Homo sapiens: one gene and its partners. The protein of the gene in region 1 purifies or fractionates together with the protein of each later gene. This does not show direct contact. Each region holds a gene or a part of one and is shown in the gene's direction. Other genes may lie near its edges.

Evidence for each region.
Region 2: the proteins of FAM167A (region 1) and CDC42BPB purify together in Homo sapiens (co-immunoprecipitation; 4 studies listed by BioGRID and IntAct, with this or other methods). This does not show direct contact.
Region 3: the proteins of FAM167A (region 1) and DCP1B purify together in Homo sapiens (co-immunoprecipitation; 3 studies listed by BioGRID and IntAct, with this or other methods). This does not show direct contact.

What each region holds. Positions count from the first base shown.
Region 1 is NC_000008.11:11,463,754-11,470,735, reverse strand, and holds the start of FAM167A (protein FAM167A), read left to right. Parts: upstream 1-3,982; 5' UTR 3,983-4,110; intron 4,111-6,982.
Region 2 is NC_000014.9:102,931,839-102,935,562, reverse strand, and holds the end of CDC42BPB (serine/threonine-protein kinase MRCK beta), read left to right. Parts: intron 1-1,719; coding exon 1,720-1,851; 3' UTR 1,852-3,183; downstream 3,184-3,724. UniProt on the Homo sapiens protein: Serine/threonine-protein kinase which is an important downstream effector of CDC42 and plays a role in the regulation of cytoskeleton reorganization and cell migration. Regulates actin cytoskeletal reorganization via phosphorylation of PPP1R12C and MYL9/MLC2.
Region 3 is NC_000012.12:1,994,417-2,001,470, reverse strand, and holds part of DCP1B (mRNA-decapping enzyme 1B), read left to right. Parts: intron 1-3,495; coding exon 3,496-3,536; intron 3,537-7,054. UniProt on the Homo sapiens protein: May play a role in the degradation of mRNAs, both in normal mRNA turnover and in nonsense-mediated mRNA decay. May remove the 7-methyl guanine cap structure from mRNA molecules, yielding a 5'-phosphorylated mRNA fragment and 7m-GDP.

The sequences.
Region 1 (6,982 bases):
GGATGTCGCCACCCTTAGTGTCCTCTGTCCCACAGAGCCCAACAGAAATTTCATCCTTCCTTCTCTTGTATCCCTAGAATCCAGGAATCGCCTTCAAGTAGCTTATAGACTCAAAAGGGATCAGGAGAGACTGATTTAGAGAGGGCTTTGTGCCCTGAGAGTGACAAGAGAGCAGAGTCTGGTTCCAGCTGTGCATTTGGAGCTCCCCTCGGGGGAAGGCCAGTCCTCACGAGGTCTGCCAGGCCCAAGGGCTCTGCCGCAGCACCTGCCCTGCCCTGTCTCTGATGTCATCTCCCACCCATGCTCTACTCCCTGCCTGCTGCATTCTGGCCTCGAGGCATCCATGCTGGCCCCTGATTGTGGCAGGCACGTTTGTTGGCCCAGGGCCTCTGCACTGACCCTTTCCCTAGAACACCCTTCCCCAAGACACCACAAGACCCCCTCCATCGTCTCCCTCAAATCTTTGCTAGAAAACCACCTTATTAGCGAGGCCAGCCCTGCCTACCTTGCCTGAAAACGTGCACACTCTTCCCCTCCTCTGCCATTACTTCCAATCCAAGTCTACAATTCTGTTTTTCTATCACTCACAATATTGCTTATTTACTTAGCGTATTTGTCGGTCATCGTCTGCCTGCTTTCCTCTGCTAGATTATCAGTTCTCAAGGGCGAGGTCCTTCATCTAACTTGTTCACTAACATTTCCCAAGAGCCTAGAACAATGTCTGGTATTTAGTGGTACTAATACGTATTTATTGAACAGATGAATAAACGAATTGGGAGAAATTCTGAAAGAATATTTTAAGTTTAAATCTTTTATTTATTTATTTATTTATTTATTTATTTATTTATTTATTTTTGAGACAGGGTCTTGCTCTGTTGCCCAGGCTGGAGTGCGGTGGTGCAATCATGGCTGACTGCAACCTTCAACTCCTGGGTTCCAGCAGTCCCACCTCAGCCTCCCAAGTAGCTGGGACTTCAGGTGTGTACCACCATGCCCAGCTGAGTTTTCTTTCTTCTTCTTCATTTTTTTTTTGTAGAAGTGGGGTCTCACCATGTTGCCCAGGCTGGTCTCCAATTCCTGGGCTCAAGCAATCCCCCTGCCTCGGCCTCCCAAATTGCTGGGATTACAGGTGTGAGCTACCATGCCTGGTTGGGCATTTTTCTTGACTCATCTATTTCACAGCTTCCTGTAGGATTATAAGAGGCAATGTCTCATGCATCATGCACCAACGGAAAGAAAACTTCTCTGTAAGGAATCAAAGGGAAGAGAGAACCTCTAGGTGGCCTTGCCTTCTCTGGCCCACCCAGATCCTCCCACCATCACTGGGTTTCAGTGTGCCTGACACAAAAGGAAGTGCCATCAGAAACACCAACACAGTGCCATCTTCCCTTTTGAGTAGTGTTTCTTGATGTTTCTCATTACAAAACGATTCATTGTAGAAAACGAATGCAGGCTTACAGAAGACATTTTAAATCCTCCATTATCCTGCAGCCCAGAGATAACGACAGCTAATATTTGCATACACTCTTCCAATCTTTTTTCCATGCATACATATGAATTAGATATTGGAATGAGAAGTTTCATAATGTACACAGGATTTGGTGTCCCAGTCTTATTTACTTAGCGTTAAATCGTTAGTATTTTTCTATATGATCAAATAGCTTTTGAGAATATTATTTCTATGGCTACATACCATTCTGTGCTAACTCATTTATTTGACCACTCCATATGATTTCACTTTGGAGTTGAGGCTACTCCAACCAAGACTGCTCTTCCTCCTCCCCTTCCTCTTTCCTCTGGCCCACTCTCCTCCTGGTCCCCATCACTGATTACCCTCCTGCCCGCAGACAAATGCCAGGCAGAATGGGAGCCACAGGGCAAGACACCACCCTTGCCTTGGACAGGCTGCCTGTCCATTTGAGGCATGCCACAATTCCCCCATGAGAAAGCATCTGCACTCCCAGAAATAGAAGCCATAGGTCAAACAGGGAGCCAGGAGGTAGAGGTGGGACAAAGCATTTCCAGATGGGGCTGAATGGCCCATCCAAAAAGATCTTGGAGCATTCACCACGTGCCAGGGCCATGGGCACACCAGTGAGCAATGCAGCCAACTAGGGCTCAGCACCGGGGCTGTGGTCAGAAACAGCCAGCACCCAGAAGGATGCTTTATCCCCAAGTCCAGATTGAGGCTCCTGCTTGCAAACATGGTTCATGCCCTTCCGGAGCCTACTGCCTCAGAGGGAGACACATACTAATCAAATAACCTCACAGGTAAACTTGGAATTATAACTGGTCCATGAAGGACATAAGGCAGGGGGCTGCCAGCACCTGTAACCTGGGGTTCCCTTAGGAGGCAGAGCTGCAGCAGCCTGTCGGGAGGAGCAGGTGCACAATGGGACTGGAAGAGGGTCTGTTGTCTGGGGAGCAGGGTCTGTGCAAGACAAGGCCCTAGAGACGGACAGAGGCCAGCCAGGCCCCTGCAGCCAAGCTAGCTGTTAATCCTCAGAGGACTGGGGGCGTTGAAGGCCTTTAAGCAGAAGCAGCTGAGACTGGATTTCCATTCTTAAGAGTTTCCCCTGTTTGTGGAGGAGTAACTGGCTTGGGAGGCGCTGAGAGAGGGTAAAGGGAGATCAGTATGGAGACTGCGTGCACGCTTGGACCCGGGTGGCAGGTCCCAGAACTGGGTAGGGCAAGCTGCTGGTGGCTTGGGTAGGGACAGTGGCAGCGGGCAGGAAGAAGGAAGGAGTGATGTTTAGGAGCTGGAATCAGAAGATCTGGATCAAGGCTGTGACTCTCCAAAAGATGCTTGTTAATACACCCGCTAGCTTAGGACCGTTCCCTCATTAGCATGACTAGGTCTGTACTGGCAAGATGTCTCCTTAGACGACGTCCCTCAGAGGACCTTCCAGTGAAGGTCAGAAAGGAAGGGAGTAGGTCAGGGCTGGATGCGGAGTTGCAGTGAAGGACGCGGGCACCAGAGGGCAGCACGAGTGTCTCGGGCCCCTGCAGGGGCTAAGACCCCACAGAAGGCCCGACCAGCCGCGCACCTGCCTGGAGCCTGCGCCAGTCACTTTGCAGCCCCACCACTCAGCTTCGCGTCTGGCCATGTAGGCGGCGCCTGCGCGCACGCCCAGGGCTATCGTGAGAATGGCAGACTGGAGCCCTTTGAAAGACGCTTCCAGCCCCGGGCATCTAGGAAAGGTGCTTGATGAGGTCTGGGGTAAGAGACCCCCATCCAGTAACCAGCCTTGGGGCCTCCAGTGTCTGGCCTGGGCCCCTCGTCAGAAGCTGGGACTGGTCCTGAAGACCTGCGGTCCGGGCAGCTCGGGCTGCTGTCCTGCCTGTGCCTTAGGGTTTGCAGCTCTGGGCTCTGATGCAGCAGGGACTGGGTCTTAGAATCTAACGACAGCCAGAGGTGGCCGATGCCGCGCCCCTGGCGGGACAGACACCCTGTGGTTAGTGGGGCAAACGCTCGCGTCTTTGCACCTCAGTTTCCTCATCTGGCAGCCAGAGATGCCTACACTTGCCCTGCTGGGTCGTTGGGGGGCGTGGCCCACGGTAGGCGCTCGCGGGCAGTCGTGGCCGCGGGTCCTATGAACTCCTGCCGTTTGGGGGTGGGTGAGGCCCTGGGCGTGGGGTCCCCCTGCGCCCTCCATGCGGACAAACTTCTGACAGTGGCGCAGTCACGTTGCCACAATTGGGGGAAACTGCCTTGGTTTCGGGTTTAATGAGAAAATGGATGTTTGGGTTTGGTTTCATCTGGGGTTTGGCGAAGGCATGTAGTTCCTCTCCACTCGCGGGGGCTGCCCGGGCCGGTGAACCGACAGGGCGCTAGGACCCGGGGCGCGCTCGGACCCGGGGCGAGAACGCGAGGCCGGGATCGCGGTGAAAGGCTCGCGGCGGAGAGCTCGGCCGTCGCCAGGCAACCGCCCTGACGCAACGCAGGGGGAAAAAAAAAGTCCTTTCCGAAAGGAGCAGCGCCGAGAATTCACCGGAGCTCGGGGAGGCGAGGCGGGAGCCCTGAGCTGAGGCCGGGCAGCGCGGACCCGCGCAGGAGGAGGCGGCGGGGACACCGGCGAGTCCCCAGCAGGGCCCCTGGGCTCCCGGAAGGTGGGTTCGCGCCGGCGGCGGGGACTTTCCCAGGGACTGGGAGGTGTGGCCGCGGCGGGCGGCGCAGTCTGGGCAGGGGCTGAGGCGTCGCAGGTCCCCAGCGCGAGCACTGGCCCGGAGCAGCCCGATCCCAAAGCGCCCTGGAGGGGACGCGCTCCTACCGCCCCCCCGGGAGAGGCCGCTCATGCGCTCCCGCGGGTTCGCTGCCCTCCCAGAGGAGCCGGGCAGCCAGGGCTGGACTTCATCTCCTAGCTCCCTGCTGGCCGTGTCCGGGCTCGGATTCTGGGTGGAGGTTCGGGGTCTGCCGTCTGAGAGGGAGGGCCGCACTCAGCCTCTCCGGGTCCACTCCCAGGCGGCTGGTGACCTCCAAGCCCAGCCTGGCTCCTGTGTATAGGTTCAGTGAGATGGAAGTTTCTGTCCCCACGGATGCGGTCCCTAACTAATGGGAGGTGGCCCAGGGCACCTGGACCCAAGGGTGCTCTAAGGACCCAAGCCAGTGTGACCTGAGGGAACGGCACAGCCGCAGGGGCCCCCGGGAATGAGCAGGTCAGCCGTGAAGGTGGGCACCCTGAGTCACCGAGACACCGGAGCACAGACGGCGGGGGGGAGGGTGTCTTCTTCAGCCAAGTTAGGTTGGATGTATAGGTTTTCTGCACACCCGTTACTGCCTGGTTTTTATTCCCGGCGGGGCTTGGAGGGAATTCTGAGGACTGGGACCTCCTGGGAAGATCTGGAAGGAGGGTTGACTCTAGGTTGGGGGCTGGCCACTGCCGTATGCCTGCAAGCAGGTTCTCCCAAGTCAAGTTTCCACAAACTCCCCGTCATTGCTGGAGAATCCCAGAAGATGAGATCACGTCCTATCCACAGGGTTTTCACCAAGGGGCACATGCTCCAAAGCAGCTTCCCACTGACACAGTAGACACAGTCCTGCCCCTCACTAAGCTCGGGATGGAGCGTGGAGAGCGTGGACAAAGTCTTGGGAAAGCAGAGGTGCTGTGGCGCCTGTTGCCTGAGGGCGTTGGCAGGATAGGAACTTCTGCAGCGTGTTTTTAAGGAGCTTGGAAAGCAGCCATGGGCTGTGCTTGGAATGGATAAAGATGACAGCTCTTCTTTCTTGAGTGCATTTATGGACCATGCACTACTTAGAAACCCTTCGCATCCCTTGGTCACTCCATCCTCCCCATCAGTCTTCAAGGAGACTCTATTATCCGTTTTGCCAATGGGACTCTAAGAAATTGAGTGACCTGGTGTGGCTCCCACACCTGGTGAGAGAGCAGAGAGTCAGCCTCACGTGCCTGACTCCCGGGACAGTGCTCTCAGACGAAGGCTGCTTTGGGAAATCTGAGGCATCTAAGGCCCAGAGAGGGGCAGAAACCACTCACGCCCAGATGAAATGAGAACTGTGTCGTGGGGCTCATCTTATGACCTGAGAAGGTCCCCTGCCTGCTTGAGGAACCCTGTGGAGCCAGGAAAGCCATTTCTTCTATTAGGAGCTTGCAAGGCTGTGTTGTTGGGCCTGGCCGGCCTCAATTCTTCCCACCTGAAGCAGAAGAAAGGGTTGCTCCCCCACACCCTGTTCTCCTCCTTGCCTGCCCAGAGCCCCCAGACTCCCTGCGCACTTGCTCCTGTTCTTCTGGTCCTCGCAATTACATGCATGGATTTCTACTAAATTGCCAGTCCCCGCCTTCCTGTCTACTAGCTTGGCCCCCCTCCAGGAGGAACTCTGGCAGGGAAATAAATTAAGGCCATGCCTAACTATTTGCTGAGAGAGAGCCACAGAGCCCCAGGCCAATGAGGAAGAAACTACTTGCTAGGCTTCTCACACCCTGGCTGCTGTGTTCTCTAGGCAAATCTTGCTCACAGAAAGCCCCGTTGGCCCTACAGGAGCCCCGGTATTCCCAGAACCCTTTGGGAGCTGTGCTTTCCCAAGGGACTTGAGCTGCTTGCAAAGGCGGAAAATGAGTAACTGAGCACTTTGCTCCTGGTTTCCAGACCAGGGGTGGGAGAGCACGCACGTGCCACTAACTGGAAATCCCTTAGGATTAGCCTGGCTGGCTGTTACTGTGCAAATGCACCCCGAGACTTGGATTGCCATGTGGAGACAGGAAGGAAAAGCACAGACTGAAACAGACCTTGAGGGGCTGAGGATGGGCTACATGGTGGGCAGGGGGAGGTGGGGAGCAGGAAGGATGGGACAGGGTGGGAAAAGAGTTTAGGAGGGGCGGCAGGTGAGCCTCACTGGCTCTGCAATCACCTGTAGAGTCTGAGCTGCCACCGAGGGCCGTGTTGCCAGGATGAGTCAGGTAGGCCGCAGGTCTCAGCTTTTCCCTGGTTAGGACCGTTGCCCTGTCCATTAAAGGCCAACTCTTCCCCACCCTGACCCCTACCACTTCTCTCTGGAGAAGTGTTGGAGAGGAAGGACAAGCATGGAGAAAGAAGGTGAGCAGAGCAGTTCAAGGGGGGCTGCTCCCACCTCACCCCCTTTCCTTCTGCACACTGCCTGCCTGCTCATCTCTGCCAGGCAGCATCAAATCTCATCCATCAGCCACTCTCGAGAGGACTTTGCTGAGCAGTAGCCCAGTCTCCCTGTGGGCACAGCCGTCAAGGGGGCCTCTCTTCTCTAGCAGCAGCTGTCTAGCGTCAGGCTCCTCTCCATGCCAGGGCCCTGCCACGTGGCCTTAGCAAGCACATAGTAGCTCCCCCCAAGTTGTCATCTATAGTGGGGGGTGGCTTTGCTCCCCCACCACAAAGCTCTCTTCACTGAGGAATTTCCAGAAGGTCCCTCGGGTGCCCATAAGTGTGATCCTCCTCCCCAGCGGCCTTTGCAGAAACCTGAAGAGGATGAGGGTTCACCTTCTCCCACTGGGGGCAT
Region 2 (3,724 bases), on another chromosome or scaffold:
CCGCCTTGGCCTCCCAAAGTGCTGGGATTACAGGCGTGAGGCACTATACCCGGCCTAGTACAGCCATCTTAACAATATTTTTACTCCACGAACATGAGATGTGTTCCATTTATTTAAGCTATTTTTTCAGCAATGTTTTGTAATTTATAGTGTACACATTTTTCCCTTCTCTGGTTAAACTATTCCTAGCTATTCTTTTGGATGCTGTTGTAAATTGAATTTTTTTTTTCAGTTTCCTTTTCAGTGTGTTCATTTCTGGTGTATAGAAACACAACTGACTTGTGTGTGTTGATCTTATACCCTATAACTTTGCTGAGCTTATTAGTTTTTTGTGGATTCTTTTCTTTGGGATTTTCTACGTGTATAATCATGTCATCTGCAAAGAGAGATAGCTTTACTTCCTTCCTAACTTGGAATCCTTTTCATTTCTGTTTCTTCCCTGATCGCTCTGCCTAGAACCTCTAGCCCCATGTTGAATAGCAGTGGTGAAAGCAGGCATCCTTGCCTTGTTGCTGATCTTTTTTCTTTTTTTCTTTTTTTTTTTTTTTTGAGACAGAGTCTCACTCTACATGTAGCCCAGGCTGGAATGCAGTGATGCGATCTCGGCTCACTGCAAGCTCCGCCTCCTGGGTTCACGCCATTCTCCTGCCTCAGCCTCCCGAGTAGCTGGGACTACAGGTGCCCACCACCATGCCAGGCTAATTTTTTTTTGTATTTTTAGCAGAGACAGGGTTTCACTGTGTTAGGATGGTCTCAATCTCCTGACCTCATGATCTGCCCACCTTGGCCTCCCAAAGTGCTGGGATTACAGGTGTGAGCCACCGCACCCGGCCCGTGGCTGATCTTAGGGGAAAATTTTGTCTCTCACCATTGGGTATGGTTAGCTGTTTTATTTTGTTGAGGAGGTTCCCCTCTATTCCTAGTGCTTTTCTCAGGAAAGAGTGTCGCGTTTGTGACTTTGACTGCTTGGTTGCAGGTGCGCACCACTGTGCCCGGCTGATTTTTGTTTTTTTTGTTTTGTTTTGTTTTGTGACGGAGTCTCGCTCTGTCGCCCAGGCTGGAGTGCAGTGGTGCAGTCTCGGCTCACTGCAAGCTCCGCCTCCCGGGTTCACGCCATTCTCCTGCCTCAGCCTCCCCAGCAGTTGGGACTACAGGTGCATGCTGCCACGCCCGGCTAATTTTTTGTATTTTTAGTAGAGACGGGGTTTCACCATGTTAGCCAGGATGGTCCCAATCTCCTGACTTTGTGATCCGCCTGCCTTGGCCTCCCAAAGTGCTGGGATTACAGGCGTAAGCCACCACGCCCGGCCTGATTTTTGTGTTTTCAGTAGAGATGGGGTGTTACCACATTGGCCAGGCTGGTCTCAAACTCCTGACCTCAAGTGTGATCCACCCACCTTGGCCTCCCAAAGTGCTGGGATTACAGGCAGGAGCCACTGCGTCCGGCCCCATCTGATTTCTTCACTACAGAGTTGCTGTCTTTTGTAATGATAATTACCATGTTATTTTTGAGTGGGATTAGACATCAATTTGTGACTCTCACCAGCACGCCTAAGGGCCCCACGAATCGCTGGTGTAGAGCGTGTGTGTTTTCATAACATGAAGGGAGAAGAGCAGTTGCGACAGTTGTCCCTGAGCAAACATTTGCATCCAGCTGGGCACGCGTGCCTCCCCAGGCTAGGGCAGCGGGTGCTCACCCTGCCCTCTTCCTGTTCACAGCCTGATTCGGACTCCACCAAACACTCAACTCCATCGAATAGCTCCAACCCCAGCGGCCCACCGAGCCCCAACTCCCCCCACAGGAGCCAGCTCCCCCTCGAAGGCCTGGAGCAGCCGGCCTGTGACACCTGAAGCCGCCAGCTCGCCACAGGGGCCAGGGAGCTGGAGATGGCCTCCAGCGTCAGTGCCAAGACTGAGCGGGCCCTCCAGTGTTGTCCAAGGAAATGTAGAATCACTTTGTAGATATGGAGATGAAGAAGACAAATCTTTATTATAATATTGATCAGTTTTATGCCGCATTGTTCGTGGCAGTAGACCACATCTGTTCGTCTGCACAGCTGTGAGGCGATGCTGTTCCATCTGCACATGAAGGACCCCCATACAGCCTGTCTCCCACCCCTGACAACCCGAGAGGGCATATGGGGCCCTGCCAACACCACTTCCTCAGCAGAAACCCGTCATGACGCGGCTGCTTCGGAAGCAGACATCTGGGGACACAGCCTCAGTACCCAGTCTTTTCCCTAGTTCCTGAAACTTTCCTAGGACCTTAAGAGAATAGTAGGAGGTCCTATAGCATTCCCAGTGTCACTAGAATTTTGAAGACAGGAAAGTGGAGGTTAGTCTGTGGCCTTTTTTTCATTTAGCCATTGCACAGTCAGCTGCAGAAGTCCTGCTGACCACCTAGTCATGGACAAAGGCCCAGGACCAGTGACACCCTGCGTCCCTGTGTGCATTAAGTTCATTCTGGGTCGCAGCCATGAAGTGTCACCAGTATCTACTACTGTGAAGTCAGCTGTGCTGTTTTCCATTCGCTTCCACGGCTTCTGCCTCCTGCCATAAAACCAGCGAGTGTCGTGGTGCAGGCAGGCCCTGTGGCCTGCTGGGCTGAGGGAAGTCAGAGCCCCAGGGCGCCACGAAGCAGCCACTGGGATACCCCACCCCGCCCCGCCCTGCCCGCCCCCCCCCCCACCAGTCCTGCCCCCGCATGGAGCCCCCGTGATTAGTAGCCCGTATGATCACGTAGACCCACCCAACACACTCCTGCACACTGGCCCCGGCCCACGGCACAGCAATCCCCTGCGCGTGGATTTCACCTCACCCTTTGTACCAGATGTTGAGTGACCAGCTCTGTGGCCCTGTGTCGTCAGAGGCTTGTGATTAACTGTGGCGGCAGACACAGCTTGTCCACAGCTTGGGCCAGGCTTCCCCTGTCCTCCCACCGGTCGGCTGCTTGGCAAGGCTGTTCAGGACGTGCACTTCCCCAAGTCGGCACTGAGTGGCCCAGCACCGCCTAGCCCTGCCACCCCACTGCCCTCCTGGGCCTTCTGCTGGATGGGCACCTGGGGGGTTCTGGTTTTTACTTTTTTAATGTAAGTCTCAGTCTTTGTAATTAATTATTGAATTGTGAGAACATTTTTGAACAATTTACCTGTCAATAAAGCAGAAGACGGCAGTTTTAAAGTTCCCAGTGGTCCGTTTGGATGTGGTAACATGTCACCCGTGTGTCTGGGCCCCAGAAGTGCCTGAGCTCCAAAAGGCAGTGAAGGAGCCACCTTGCAGAAGATGCTATTCGCCAGCAGAAGCTATTCTGGGTAACTCACTCGGAGGTCACCCAAAAGGCTGCTGTTGGGGTGTTCAGCCTGAACAGAGGGCATCCTTGGGGCAGGAGTGAAGGGAGGAGGGCAGCGTGCCTGTGAGCCCCAGCCAGGCAGTGCCAGGGCCCCAGGAGCAGGCTGCCCGCGAGGGTCTGCCTGTCCACACCCATACACGCCAACCCTGCCAGCAGCCCCAAGGGACAGGATGGGGTAGGCCAGAGGCCCCAGGAAGAGGCAGGAGTTCTCGGGGAGGTCTGGGCCAGGGTGAGTGGTCCCTGGTTGAGGGAATGCTCGGAGTCAGTTTCCTGAGTTATGCAGGGAGTTGGCTTCTATTTGCCACTCACTGAGACCTAGTTGTCCTTGGTAGGACAAGGGCAGTGATGGCCCCTGCAGAAGAGTGCGGACCTGGG
Region 3 (7,054 bases), on another chromosome or scaffold:
ATTCCATTTTGGGTTTTTTAGTATTTTGAATTCTGAATTGCTTATTTCTTTAGCACTTGTTAGATTTTATAATACAGTATAATATTAAATCCTCAAATTGTACTTTTAAAATTTAAGCTAAAATACCCCAGGACTGGTAACTAATACTTTCACATAAAAGTCCTCCTTAAAGGATCTAAGGAACATCTAATCTTGTTTTAGCTATTCTCCACATCCCTAACCCTGGACTTTGCTCAGAAAGAAAAAAAAAATCTGGTTGCCCTTGGATAACTATGGAGGGGCCAGGAAAATGCGTGAATTTGGGCAGCTGTAATAGAACAGAAATGTATATTTTCAAAGTCTCTTTTATCCAGGTGTCATAGAGCGCCTGACGTTTTTTCATCAAAAGATCTGAGTAGTGTAAGCTGATTATCTCTCTTTTTTTTTTTTTTTTGAGACGAAGTCTCGCTCTTGTTCCCCAGGCTGGAGTGCAATGGCGTGACCATGGCTCACTGCAACCTCTGCCTCCTGGGTTCAAGCTATTCTCCTGCCTCAGCCTCCAGAGTATCCAGGATTACAGGCGCCTGCCACCACTCCTGGCTAATTTTTGCATTTTTAGTAGAGACGGGGTTTCACCATGTTGGCCAGGCTGGTCTTGAACTCCTGACCTCAGGTGATCCACCCGCCTCGGCCTCCCAAAGTGCTGGGGTTACAGGCGTGAGCCCCTGTGCCCGGCCTGGTTATCTCTTTTCAATGGAGAAACTGAGACATATAATAATAAACTAATTAGCCCAGCATGATCTGGCAAGAACCCCACTACAGGTCCCAGGTTGTGATTACTGAAACACAACTCCTTCCTATGAACAAACTCATATTCTTTGTGTGTAATGCTAAATAAAAATCTTAGTTTTAAGAATTACTTGTTATAAGTTAGAGATTAATTTTAGGAGAAGCATGCCTTTTACATTTTTGACCTTGGAATTTAAAAACTAAAATGTGGCATTAAAGGTTTTTTTTTTTTAATTAAGAAAAGAGAATTTCTGTTACATCAAGGAAGAAAGGAAACAAGTCAGAAGCTATTTAGTTTTATGTGTGCTGATATATATAGATATCCTTATTCAGATCTCTAAGATGAAACAGTCCAAGGTCAGATACTGGAAGACCAGGAGAGTGTTTTGATCTTGTGGGGAGTGATCCTGACTACATAGAGGTTCTGCAAAGTCCTAGTTCTATCACCTGTATCTTGGCTCAGTTTCCTAACAATGTAATGGATAATACCAAATACTTTCTACAAATTTATTTTTAAATGCTTTGTGGACTTGTGAATACTTGCTGACTGAATCAGTTAAACTTTAGGGACAGCCAAAAATTTGTATACTGTTCAGGTAGCATTTACTGTACTGTAGGGGCCATTTTCCTGATTAATACTTTGGTGGTTTGGGTGTAAGTAATTCTTAGTGCTTCAGGTACACTCAGGATATACATTTGTCAGCAGATAGGAATTAACCATGTTTGTTTTCAAAGAAAGATAAGTAATGTTTCTGTATATATATTTTTTCATTTTGACTTGGATATTTTTCAAAGTACAGGGGCAAACGAGCCACATTTCAGAAATAAGGATATGTTTCACAGTATGTTGTGGTGATTTATACAAACTTCATAGTGAATCTAGTTTAAGGATGAACTCCCTGACTTACCTATGCTTTTATGTTAGGGAAAAAACTGGCTAAAGTTGTTTTAATTGTTATTTATTTATTTATTTATAAGAAACAGGGTCTCCCTCTGTTGCCCAGGCTGGAATGCAGAGGTACAATCATAGCTCACTGTAGCCTCAAACTCCTGGGCTGAAGCAATCCTCCCTCCTCAGCCTCCTGAGTAGCTGAGACTACCGGCATGTGCCACCACACCTGGCTAATTAAAAAAATTTTTGTTTTGTAGAGGCAAGGTCTCACTATGTTGCCCAGGCTGGTCTCAAACTGAACTCCTGGCCACAAGCGATCCTCCTGCCTGCCTCAGCCTCCCAGAGTGCTGGGATTACAGACATGAGCCACTGTGCCTGGTCTAAATTCTTTATTTATAATTTCATATTCCATAATAATAAACATCTTGAGATTAAATATTTTGTTACTAGGTAATGATTTTTTATAGCCATTTACTCTTGATAATAGCTTGATATGATTTGTGCCATAATGGATTTTGTTTTCAGGACTTGTAATATAATTTCATGGGCAGAGAGTATGTTGTTGAACTAAGGCAGTGAGTGGCTCTCAAACTAGCATACATCAGAATCACCTGGACAGTTTAATAAAACCCAGATTGCTGAGCACCATCCCCAGAGTTTCTGATTCAGTAGGTTTGGGCAGGAGCCCAAGAGCTTGCATTTCTAATAAGTTCCCAGGTGACGCTGATGCCGCTGATCTGGGGATAACACTTTGAGACCCACTGAACTAAAGTGAATGAGAAATTTGCTGAAATTGCCTGAGCATGTGAAAGGATCATGCCTTGTGTGCCTTTTAAAAACTGCTGTTTTGACATTACGCTTTTTTTAAAAGGGCGTATTTTTCACCAGAATTACAGAGTACTTAAATTTTGAATGATTATGGTGATGAATATTAATAATAAAATATCAGGGGTTTAAATAGAATGCTGAAATTAAACCATGTAAATTGCAAAAGTACATTTTAAATTCTGAATTACAGTAGGTCTGGTTCGTGGTTAGTCAAACACCTGGATACTTACATGTGTGTTTTTTAGTATGCATTATATGGATGAATATTATAATGGCCTAGCTTCCTGCCTTTGGAGAAATGGAAAAGAAATGTGAAGTGACCTAGTTAAACCATCATTTTAACTTTACCACCTCTCCCAGATTTTCTCAGGCAGATTTCTTGAGTCCTAACTTGGTAATACTTGTGTAACTTTACTTCAGTGATCTCGGGTCAGACCTTGACTGTAAATATACTACACTAAGTAGGTGATTGATTCATCTGAGAACTCTGTGGCATCATTGCCCTCTCTGTCTAGCAGTCAAAGTAAAGTTATTGACAGATCATCTGCTCTCCTAAGTCACTGGATATGGCAGGAGAAAATGAACCCAGAAAACAAAATGAAGGATAGTGAAATGCAGACACCAGTGATGTCTGCAGCTTTCTCTATACCCAGTGTGGTGGAAGGAGAAAAAGGCAGCACTCTTCTTTCTAATTAAATCCGCATAGCACACTTATTTTCTCATTGTTTCAGCTAAGGGTATGCTGCTATCCCTGTATTTGGTAAAGAGAGATAATGATGATTTGTTTTATAAATGACAAAAGAAAGACTGCTTCCTGCTGCCTAATCTGCAGAGGCACAATGATGACATAGAACTTGCTTTCTCCTTTTCCTGAGAATAACTCCTCATGTTGGGTATATTTGGCCCATTGAAGTTATATATAATTCCTATTCTATGAGAATTTGTTTTATACCTTTGTGAATTGAAGAGAACATACATGTCTTGTGTGTTTTGTTTTTATTGTTTAGGAGAAAACTGATGTGGAAGGAACCTTATTTGTTTATACAAGGTAAGAGTGTTTCACTTTTATAAAGAAACTAATCTTCAAAATAATATTTTAGCTCCGTTGTGTCACTCTTCTTCAAGTGCATGCAGTTTTATTTCAAAAAGAAGTAAAAGAATTAAATCTCAGTTTTGAAATTATTAGTTGACACGAAGAAGGGAATACCAAATAATGTCACCTGGTATATCGTGATGAATACTAATTTCAGAATATAATTTAAACTTCAATGTAGATGAACTTAAATCATTGACTGGGCACTGTTTAAAATAGATTAAATATTCTTTGATTCAAGTGAATGGCACAAAGTTCTTGAATATAATGCATTGGCAAGGAGCTAGAAGAACACTATCAGAAATACTAGATTGTTCAGTTAATATTTGGAAAAGGGTTTCATTGATCATTTTTCTTTTTTTTGAGATGGAGTCTCGCTCTGTCACCAAGGCTGGAGTGCAGTGGCACGATCACAGCTCTTGGCTTGCTGCAACCTCTGCCTCCTGAGTTCAAGTGATTCTCCTGCCTCAGCCTTCTGAGTAGCTGGGATTACAGGCATGCGCCACCACGCCCAGCTAATTTTTAGTAGCAACGGAGGTTTCACCATGTTGGTCAGGCTGGTCTCAAACTCCTGACCTCGTGATCCACCCGCCTTGGCCTCCTAAAGTGCTGGGATTACAGGCGTGAGCCACCGCACCTGGCTGTTGATCACTTTTCTCCCACCCCTGACTCTTTAAAAAAGCATGATCCAAAATTGAAGATGTCTTTCAGTCCTCCATTGTCTAGTCAATAGAATATGTTTCAGGATAGATTTAATAAACTCATGTTTTTAGTCATTTCTTGTTATCAGATATTAATATCAAATTACGAGTGCATATAGAGACATACATTATGTATATTGGCTCAATAAATAAACTTTTCATTCACATAAACATTCACATAAAATGTCATAGCCAAAGGTCATCACCTTCAATGAGGGTACAAAGATGAAATTAAAAGACCTAATATAAACCTTTCTAGGGGTATCTGTTTCACTGGGGAGACAGGAAATACACACACACAAGTGTATTTTCTTTCCACATATATTCATGTTTATGGTAAGCCACAATACAGGATAGAGTATCCTAAGTGCCAGTGGATAGATTCTGAGCAATGAATGGGCTGCTGTGATCATGGAAGGCTTTATCGCAAGCTTGTCCAACCCACGGCCCATAGGACACGTGGCCCAAGATGGCTTTGAATGTAGCCTGACAGAAATTCGTAAACTTCTTTAAAACATTAGAAGAGTTTGTTGTTTTTTTTTTTTTTTTTTTTTTTTTTTTTTTTTTTTTTTAGCTCATCAGCTATTATTAGTGTATTTTATGTGTGGCCCAAGACAATTCTTCCCTTTCCAAGGTGTCCCAGGAAGGCCAAAAGATTGGACACCCCTGCTTTATAGAGTGATGTGTCTTGAATTGGGCCTCAGGAATATGGTGGAACTTAGCTTGCATAGAGGAGAGGGAAGGCAGTCTCAACAGGAAGAATGGCAAAAGCAGGGGCGGAGAACCTGGTGTGTTAAAGGGACAGTGAGGGAGATGTGGTGCAGAGGGCTTATACTGGTTTATAGTAGTTAGCAAGTGTAAAGAGATTTGCTAGCTTGGAATGGCAGACTCTGGATTTTGAGATTATTTTCTTAGCAGTAGGAAGTTATTGAAGGCTTATGAACAGGAGAGTAATAGAGAAAATGTATGGGGAAAGTCAGTGTATTCACTTCATGGGGACGCACTAGTTCTGGAAGAAATTGGAGTCAGGACAGTGAGAAGATTATTGCAGTGGGGTAGATATGAAATGATGAGAGTTGGGATTAGAATAATAGAAATTGAAATGGAAAGGGTATTGCAATGGTGAAATTTTAAAAATGACAATATTTTGAACATGGAAGATTGAGAATGACAGAAGCATTGGTGGAAAAGAAAGACAGGAGGTCAAGAATGTGGCTTGAGGATCAGCCCTCATTTTACTTTGAAGTAATGATTTGGAACTGGTAGCAGGACACTTGGGTGGAGGTGGCCAGCCCCTCAGAGTAAGGGCAGGGCTGGAGATGGTTTAGAGTTGTCTGAAGTAATTTGGTAGTTGAAACCATGAAATAAAAGCTGTTCCCTGAAGGAGTGAGTATAAAGAGGAACCGATGAGGGTTTATGGTTAGGTTTGAGGGCCAGCAAGGATACAGATGAGTCAGCTGGAAAGATAAAAGCAGGACTAGAACAGCACAGAGAGGCCCATTTGGGGCAAAGTGTGGGCATGATGGAGGTCTGTGTATGCTGGGCAGGAGGGAGCTCAGCTGCAGGGGAGGAAGGTCTGTTCCAGTGGAGGCAACAATGGGAGGTGGAAGGAAGGAATGGGAGGCAAGGCCAGCACACTTGGTGACAAGGAGGTCAGGTTCTTCACAGTCTCAGAAGAGCAGTGGAGTACCCAAGAACCGTTGGTATATGAGTCTACATTATGCTCCCAAACATCCAGAGCACCAGAGCATGCCCCCAGGCAAGTTTATTGGGTAGAGTATGAGCACTCTTGAGGATTCTGAAGTTTACAACAAAAGCCATAGGGTTGCACTGTACTATGTGCCATGCACACAGGGTGCGTTCTCACTCATCTCTCACAACACGCATTATGATTCTTTGGAGAAGTGACAGAAAAGATGTATTAGTAAGTATTAATGATTGATTTGGGGAATTTTTAGTAGGGTTTTTTTTTAACTATGGAAGAGGAACAAATCATACAAATATTTTCTTTTGTACATCCAGACCAAATATAAGTTTGTATTTTCAAGGATTTCTTACTATACTCTAAGTCTCTAATGGAACTCTCAATTAAACAAAACATTAAATTGAGAAAAAAATCCTTTGCTGTTTTTTAGTCTTTTCTCCAAATCTAACTCCTCAAGAATGGGATGCCTCCCTTATCCCCTGCAAAACAAAAACCTCCCAGATCCTAGAATGTTGAAGGCTTTCTTCAGTAGCGAATTACAAAAAGCATGTAAAACTCATGGTGGGTGGGGGGTGGGAGGCTTGTTACAGGGAATGGAGCTGGCAGTGATTTATTTTGACTTCTCTTACAGAAGTTGCTTTAGAGCAGTTGGCACATTTATCCCCTGGGCCTATTTTCTAAATTATGAGATGCTATAGTAGCTGTACTATTAAAGAGGTGAGATCCTGTTGTGATAATGAAATACATGCAGAATCAAATTCTCATTCTTGTATGAAAACACTTAATCCCATTTAAAAAATCATTTATTTCCTCCCATGCCTTCCTTTCTGTAATAGAGAGTTCATAGAGACACCCACTGGTGATTTCTGAACTTGACAGTTCCAGAAGACCCCTAACAGAGCTCTTTGGGAGTACATTTTCATTCTTCCTCTGAATTTAAGTTGAAGTGATGATCATGATTATTTCTGGTATTGATTGTATGCTTACCACCACTTTACCCCTTTGTAAAATAAGCTAGGCAAGGATTGCCTCCCATCAATTTTAAAATTGGAGGTTTCAGAAGAAAA